Homo sapiens: one gene and its partner. The protein of the gene in region 1 interacts with the protein of each later gene in a pairwise test. Each region holds a gene or a part of one and is shown on either strand. Other genes may lie near its edges.

Region 1 (3,817 bases):
TTACCTCTTCAACTTCATTCTCCCTGTGAAAAGGTTTTCAAGTTTTATACCTGGTAGAGAGCTGATATTACATAAAAGTATTTTAAATTTATGATTTTAATTGAGAAAATTAACCTTGTAATCTTTTAGAGAAAGATTATTCAAGGATGAGGGTACCCTAGTTTCCTATGTAACTAAGCAACTTGGTAGAGACCAGGAATTCAGTGTTTGCTAATTAGAGACAAGTAAGGAATATGGAATTCATACTTATGAACTCTTAAATGATCATTTATCAGTAATACAATCTAGAACTGGCTTTACGAATACTAAAATACACATTTCTTAAAAACACTACCTTGTTTAAAAACTACCCTCTTATGTAAAATCCTCAGCCTATCTTCTCCTAAACCACATTTTTAATTTCCATAATTCCCACAATATGTAACTCTTAATAACATACAAGAAGGTAATCCTCTAGGATGTCTGTCAGCAACCAGGGTTCAAATTTTGGAATATAAAAGAACTGTTCCTCTATGCTTTGTTTCAGCAACTAGCACTTAGAGCAAATCAAAACAATAGCCGTGTTTCTACAAATCCTAAAATCCTTATACTCCAATTTTCAAACCAACCTGTATATGGAAAGGAGGCCATGGATTCACTACTAATAGAACTATCCACAAACACACACTGGTTTCATTATTTAATACTAAACCATTTATTTCCAAATATAATTCTCAGGTCTTAACTATAGAATATGATCCTTTCCTCTTTTTACAGAAACAAAGCACAGGCCTAAGGATCCATTATTTTAGTATAATCTCAATCTGCAATTGTCACCAAACAAGTCATTTGCTATTTGGGGAGCCCTGCTTCTTTCCAAAGATAGCAGGTGATTCAGTTAGCCTTAGAGCTCAAATATCTCCCTGGATGCTGCCCTTTACTGTTTGACAAATGCTATCTTAAAAGTTCCTCCAGTTACATCTATGCTGCAAAAAAAAAACAAAAAACTTCCTAGAGCAAGTTTATATTGAATTGACAGGATCTTGGGATCTTGGGTACTGAGTCCACCTAGTCATTTTACAGATGAGAAATCTAAGAATATAAAAAAAGTCCTGCTTACCCATATGTTATGACACAGCCAGGAATAGAACTTAGCATACCTTTTATCATATCATGGAGGCATGACACCTACCTTTCAGGAATTACTGCAAGGATTAAATAAAAACCAAACAGAAGCTCTGGAAGCTATATATAAGTTAGTTCATCAAAGTCAGCCAATGTTGTGTTTCTTAAATTTATACTTCCATATGCTATGCCCAGATTCTCCCCTAGTCTGGAATAAGATTACAGACAGTTCTAATGTGATGGATAATTATTTTCTTTAAACCAAACACCCTCAGTTTCGCTCCTGGGCACTGAGCTAAGGATTTGCTACCAATAGCCTATCAATACATTAGTACCTTTTGGTAAACAGTTATAATCTTTGCATATCACTGAGTGATTGAACATGGGCTCTATTAAACAGTTGTGGTTGGACACGGTGGCTCACACCTGTAATCCCAGCATTTTGGGAGGCCAAGGCGGGAGGATCACTTGAGGCCAGGAGTTCAAGACCAGCCTGGCCAACATGGTGTAACCATGTCTCTACTGAAAATACAAAAATTAGCCAGGCATGGTGGAGCATGCCTGTAGTCCCAGTACTCGGGAGGCTGAGGCAGGAGAATCGCTTGAACTTCAGAATGGCCAAAATCGCGCCACTGCACTCTAGCATGGGAGACAGGAGACTGTGTCTCAAAGAAACAAAAAAAAGTTGTGTTGACCACTATGAGAAACTTAACGTTGCATAGGGTTCATTTGTTAAGGCACCAATCACAACTTCATTGTTTATCATGCAAAATTATGATTCCATTATAGTTTTGCATAAATTTTTATTACCAAGTTCAAAACATCACCCAATACCATGTATTTTTATCTACTCCCTCCAATAGTATATCATTTTTCCTTATCCCAACAAATCCACGGAATATGATATTCCCATCATTAACAGTGCTCACCATAAGAGCAAATTCTTTCTGAAGAAAAGAAAAAGTTTAAGGTGCGGCAGCTCACGCCTGTAATCCCAGCACTTTGGGAGGCCAAGGAGGGCAGATCACCTGAGGTCAGAGTTCGAGATCAGCCTGACCAACATGGAGAAACCCATCTCTACTAAAAATACAAAATTAGCCGGGCGTGGTGGCACATGCCTGTAATCCCAGCTACTCAGGAGCTGAGGCAGGAGAATTGCTTGAACCCTGGAGGCAGAGGTTGCAGTGAGCCGAGATCACGCCATTGCACTCCAGCACAGGCAACAAGAGCAAAACTCCATCTCAAAAAAAAAAAAGAAAAAAGAAAAAGTTTAGAAAACATCTGCCCCTCCCACCCCCCAACTAACTTGAATATGCTTCTGGTTAGGAATCACTGTCCTAAATAACCTGTAATCCAAGACTTTAAACCACAATACTGTAACAAATAACTGGCAAAGTAAACATGATTTTAGGTCAGGCGTGGTGGCTCATGCCCGTAATCCCAGCACTTTGGAAGGCCAAGGCGGATGCATCACCTGAGGTCAGGAGTTCGAGACCAGCCTGGCCAACATGGTGAAATCCTGTCTCTACTAAAAATACAAAAAATTAGCTGGGCGTGGTGATGCATGCCTGTAATCCCAGTTACTCGGGAGGGTGAGGCAGGAGAATCGTTTGAACCCAGGGGGCGGAGGTTGCAGTGAGCCAAGATAGCGCCACTGTTACTTCAGCCTGGGCAACAGAGCGAGAATGTCTCCAAACAAAACAAAACAAAACAAAACAAAACAAAACAAAACAAAACACCATGTAATTTTAAAAGCTAGTGAAGGGCTGGGTGTGGTGGCTCACACCTGTAATCCCAGCACTTTGGGAGGCCAAGGAGGGTGGATCACCGAGGTCAGGAGTTCGAGACCAGCCTGGCCAGCTGGTCTAAAAAATATAAAAAATTAGCCAGGCATGGTGGCGGGTGCCTGTAATCCCAGCTACTCCAGAGGCTGAGGCAGGAGAATCGCGTGAACCCGGGAGGCGGAGGTTGCAGTGAGCCGACAGTGCCACTACACTCCAGCCTAAGCAACAAGAGTGAACTCCATCTCACACACACAAAAAAAAAAGTTAGTGAAGGGCTGGGCAAGGTGGCTCACGCCTGTAATCCCAGCACTTTGGGAGGCCAAGGTGGGTGGCTTGCCTGAGCTCAGGAGTTGAAGACCAGCCTGGGCAAAATGGTGAAACCCTGTCTCTACTAAAAATACAAAAATTAGCCGGGCCTGGTGGCAGGCACCTATAGTCCCAGCTACTTAGGAGGCTGACGTGGAAGGATCATTTGAGCCCAGGAGGCGGAGGGTGCAGTGAGCCAAGATCACTCCACTGCACTCCAGCCTCGGCAACAGAATGAAATCTTGTCTCAAAAAAAGAAAAAAAAAAAAAAAGATAGTGAATAACATACTCTGATCTTTGCTCTCTTCATACATTTAAAAACAGGCCAGTAATGCTATGTTCCAAATTCTACATTGGAAATAACTTCAAGATAGAACTAATGTTAAAATGGCCACATTTTCTAGTTTTAACTATCTCAAAGTAAAATTTGTACAGTTGTATGACAATGGTAAAATGACTAATCAAACAGAAATAACCACATTAAAATATTCTATTTTTCAAAGCGTTAGAGTCAAATATATACACATAAACCACTCTTTTAAGGGCTGGGTGCAGTGGCTCATGCCTGTAATCCCAGCACTTTGGGAGGCCAAGGCAGGAGGAACGCTTGAGCCCAGGAATTG
Region 2 (3,817 bases), on another chromosome or scaffold:
AAGGGCATCACCACGATCCATCTGGCATGGAACAGAGATCCCTGGTGCTTGATAACAAGAACTGGGTAGGCCTTCTCTCTGCGAAGAATGGTGTTAAAAGTTCTTCCACGTGCCCCCCACCTCCTTTCATGCAGATGATCTGGGAAACTGAAAACAGGGTAAAAGGAGACCTCGGGGGGAAGGAAGGTTACCTAGCTGTTCCTGCATTAAAGGACCTATGAGATGGTCTATAGCAGCAGCAGGAGGGATTTAAGCTAGATGTCCAGAAGTATTTCCCAATGGGAAGGCTGCTAAGCACTCTCCCAGGACAGGAATGTGATCTATGACTCACAGGTCTTATACTCTAAGTCCCCTGCTCAGCCCGCACTATGTTTATATATACGTATGCACAAGCTTGACTTTTCCATAAGTACACACAATTGAGGGAAACTGGTCTAGTATTTATTTGGTGAAACTTGATGTCCTCTCCCCTGGGTGCTGGGTCATGGTGCTGACCAGGCATCGCCTGAATGACTGGATTAGCAGCCATGTCAACAAGCCTTTGCTCTCCAGACAATGTGCCAAGCTGTAGGTAACAGGCTGGGGACACCAAGTCCCAAAGGAATTATAGAGATCGGTAATAGCCTAGTGGAGCACACTCTAAACGCCAAAGGTGTGGCTCAGCAGGAACCTAGCAACTCAGAGGGAGGTGTCCAAGAAGCCGATCACGGAGGCTCCGAGTGGGGAGGGGAGACTGCAGACCCAGCTTGAGGTGCACCTCATGGTTGTTTGGTTTCTAATGGGGGAGTTCTGGGCAGGCCCAAGAGGAGACATTTTGGGGTCCCTGGAACTGCTCTCTTTTCCCAAGAATCTGTCCTGAAATGGGTACCCAGAGCCACAGGCCTGTTAGAACTTGTCACATGGAGAACATGACTTTTAATTAGGGACAAGGTCTTGAGGAAGGGGCCTTCGCAGAGTCTCTTTTGCCCCCAAGAGCCTCTCACAGGCCAAGGATGGGGCTCCAGGAATCCCTAGCCCAGTGGAGAGCAGGGTCAAGGAAGGGGTAAGAGTTCATCCATCTGCCCTGAGATGGCATTTTATCTCCCAGAAGCTGCAGGCTCAGCTGTCCAGGCCCTCCTGGGCCAGGACCTTCTGGACCGAACACAGGCCCCAGTCCTCCTCCCCTGCAGGTCCAGGCTTAATGGTTTTACATGGTGAACAGTTCTCAGGGACCCAAACCTTGAGCCTCCCTGGATTAAATGAGGCTGAGCCCCTGAGTCTAGAAGTAACTGGGGGGCCTCCTTCCACCCTCTACCTCCATGTAGGGCTGCAGAAGAACCAGCAGGAACAAATATGGCAATTTAATTTTTACAGTTTCCAGATGGAAAGAAAGGAAACTTGTTTTAAGGGCTGTATGGCATGATGGTTAGGAACAAAAGGTGAAGGTTTGATTGCTAGCTGTGCCATCTACTAGCTTGTGGCCTTTCACACACGCACACACGCACACAAAAAAACCGTCAAGGATGAATGAGGGTTGATTTGATTCTTAAGGGCCTAAATCATCTGGAGAATGGGGACAAGCAATAACACCAACCTTGCAGGATTGACCTGAAGAATAAATGAACCAATAATATAAAATGCTTGGAACAACACCAGCACGTAGTAAGCACTAAAACGAAACAAACAAACAAAAGAGCTGGCTATTATTACTAAACACCCTTCCGGCAATGGCAGGGTCATCATTTCCACATAGGAAGAGTTTACAGCAGTGAGTACGTGGAAGGAAGATCTTCAAGACTTGTTTTGAAAACCGATTTGCACAGCAAGCAAACTTTTGTTCCTTTTTCAATTTTTTCTTATGCTGTAAGAGGATCACGGACATATTTTCTTCATAGAGTTTAAATGAAATGATACGTATAATGTGCTTAGAACTGTGCCTGTCACTTAGCAAGCACTCAGTAAATCCTACTTGTTTATTTGGGGTGGCTGGAGAGAGTGCTGGAGATTATAATGAAAGATATACAGTAGGGGCACCATTAGGCCCCCACTATGGCCAGGATGCCTCTTGTTAGGAGGTTCTGTTCTGTTCCATAGTCAACATTAGTCTTCCCTGCTATGGGGTAAACTGGCATTTAGACATAAGAATTTCCAGACAATCAATCAGGGTGTCAGACCTGGGCCAAGCTCCCAAGAAAGCTTCCTGCAGCTCTTCCCCCGGAGGTGCTCATTGGTCAAAAGAATGCACATCATGACCTCTGAAAGGTCCTTGCTGCCTCAGGACTCTGACTGCAGCATTTGAGCTCCTGGTCCAAAGACCAGCGCTATCCAGCCCACAATGGATGAGCTGGGTTTATGGCTGGGGAGAGACACGGGAGCTGGAATGTAAAACAAATGGACCGTAAGCACCTTGTGTGCTCTCTCTGGCTGTGGAGTATACAGACACACACTTTCACCTGCTCCCCTGCTCCAGGCCTGGCCTGGCCCCCTCCCAGAGGGGCCCCCCGGATTGGAGAAAGGGTCAGAGGACTCAGGAACACTGGGAGCACTCCCTTTACCATGGTAAGGAGTTGAACACACTATGCTGCCTCTGAAAACAACAGAACAGCAGAGTCAGCCTCGCCCCATTAGCCACCCACTCGGGACACTTTACCTCGTGGATCCCAAAGTGGGCATAGGAGTCGAAGTAATAATCTCTCGAGGTCATCTCCTCTGGGTTCAGCAGCTTGGACATCTTGCCCCGTCCTGGGCAGCTGGGTTGAGTGGACACATGATGGACGCATTGCACGGGCTTAGCAGGGACGACGGGCTGGGGGGGCTGGGAGGGGGGGCTGTTCACCTGAGGGGAAGAGAAGGGGGTCGGGTGTTAGGAGAGACAACGGGGTCCCGCCCTCGGAGGCTTGCGGTCCTCTTTCCTTCCCCCTCCCTGAGCCCGGCCTCAAGCAGCCACAGCAGCCCTTCCTGAAAGGGAGGTAGGTGAGCCCTTCCAGCTCCCAGCAGTTGGGCTCATGGCTGTGATCTGTCCAGAGATGGCAGTCCACCGAGGAGCCACACACACCTAGATTTCACCCACCTTCAGCTCTTATTAGCTAGGTGACCTGAGCAATGCAGGCCTCAGTTTCTGTATCTGTGAAATGGGGAAAATAGTATCTTCCTTTGAAGGCAAATAGGAAACATTCAATAAAGGGAAAGATGCATAGCACAGCATGGTGCCTGAGAGTGTAGATTCCGGAGCTGAATCCCAGCTCTGCCATTTCCCAGCTATACAACTTTGGGCAAACTTATGAACTTCTCAGTGCCTCAGTTTCCTTTTCTCTAAAATGGGAATAAAATGGTCCCTGCCTCCTAGAGTTGTCCTGAGGATTAGACAAGTTTGTATTTCAAAGTGCTTAGAAAAGGGCCAGGCATATAGTAAGAGTTTGTTAGAGGAAACGAAGTCCCACCTGCATCCTCAGGAACGTGAACCCATGGGCTTCTCTCCACTCAACAGGCAGCATCAAGCTAGAAGAGGATACGGCCCCCAAAATGCAGATGTCTTAGGTTCTGGTGTCTCCTACCTGTTGTCTTGCCCCCTAGTTTCTGATTCACAGTTCTACCCTGAATTCAGCACTGTGGATACCCACACTGATGGCCTCCACACAACCAATTATTGCTATTTCTGGGTGCCCCAATCCTGAGGCCCAGCCCAGCTCTACACCCACTGCTGCTGCCCATCACTGTCTGCTCCCTGGTCCTCCACAGGCTAGGCGGAGCAGGGAGAAGGAGATGGGGGTCCACAGAGCTTCTGGAGCCCAGAGACAGCAATTGGAGCCCAGAAGCTCAAACACTGCAACAGAAGCAG

The links.
Region 2: the proteins of SERBP1 (region 1) and PRMT8 interact in a two-hybrid assay, tested with the Homo sapiens proteins (one large-scale study listed by BioGRID and IntAct).

Annotation. Positions count from the first base shown.
Region 1 is NC_000001.11:67,420,164-67,423,980, forward strand, and holds part of SERBP1 (SERPINE1 mRNA-binding protein 1), read right to left. Parts: intron 24-3,817; coding exon 1-23. UniProt on the Homo sapiens protein: Ribosome-binding protein that promotes ribosome hibernation, a process during which ribosomes are stabilized in an inactive state and preserved from proteasomal degradation.
Region 2 is NC_000012.12:3,539,604-3,543,420, reverse strand, and holds part of PRMT8 (protein arginine N-methyltransferase 8), read right to left. Parts: intron 2,816-3,817; coding exon 2,630-2,815; intron 1-2,629. UniProt on the Homo sapiens protein: S-adenosyl-L-methionine-dependent and membrane-associated arginine methyltransferase that can both catalyze the formation of omega-N monomethylarginine (MMA) and asymmetrical dimethylarginine (aDMA) in proteins such as NIFK, myelin basic protein, histone H4, H2A and H2A/H2B dimer.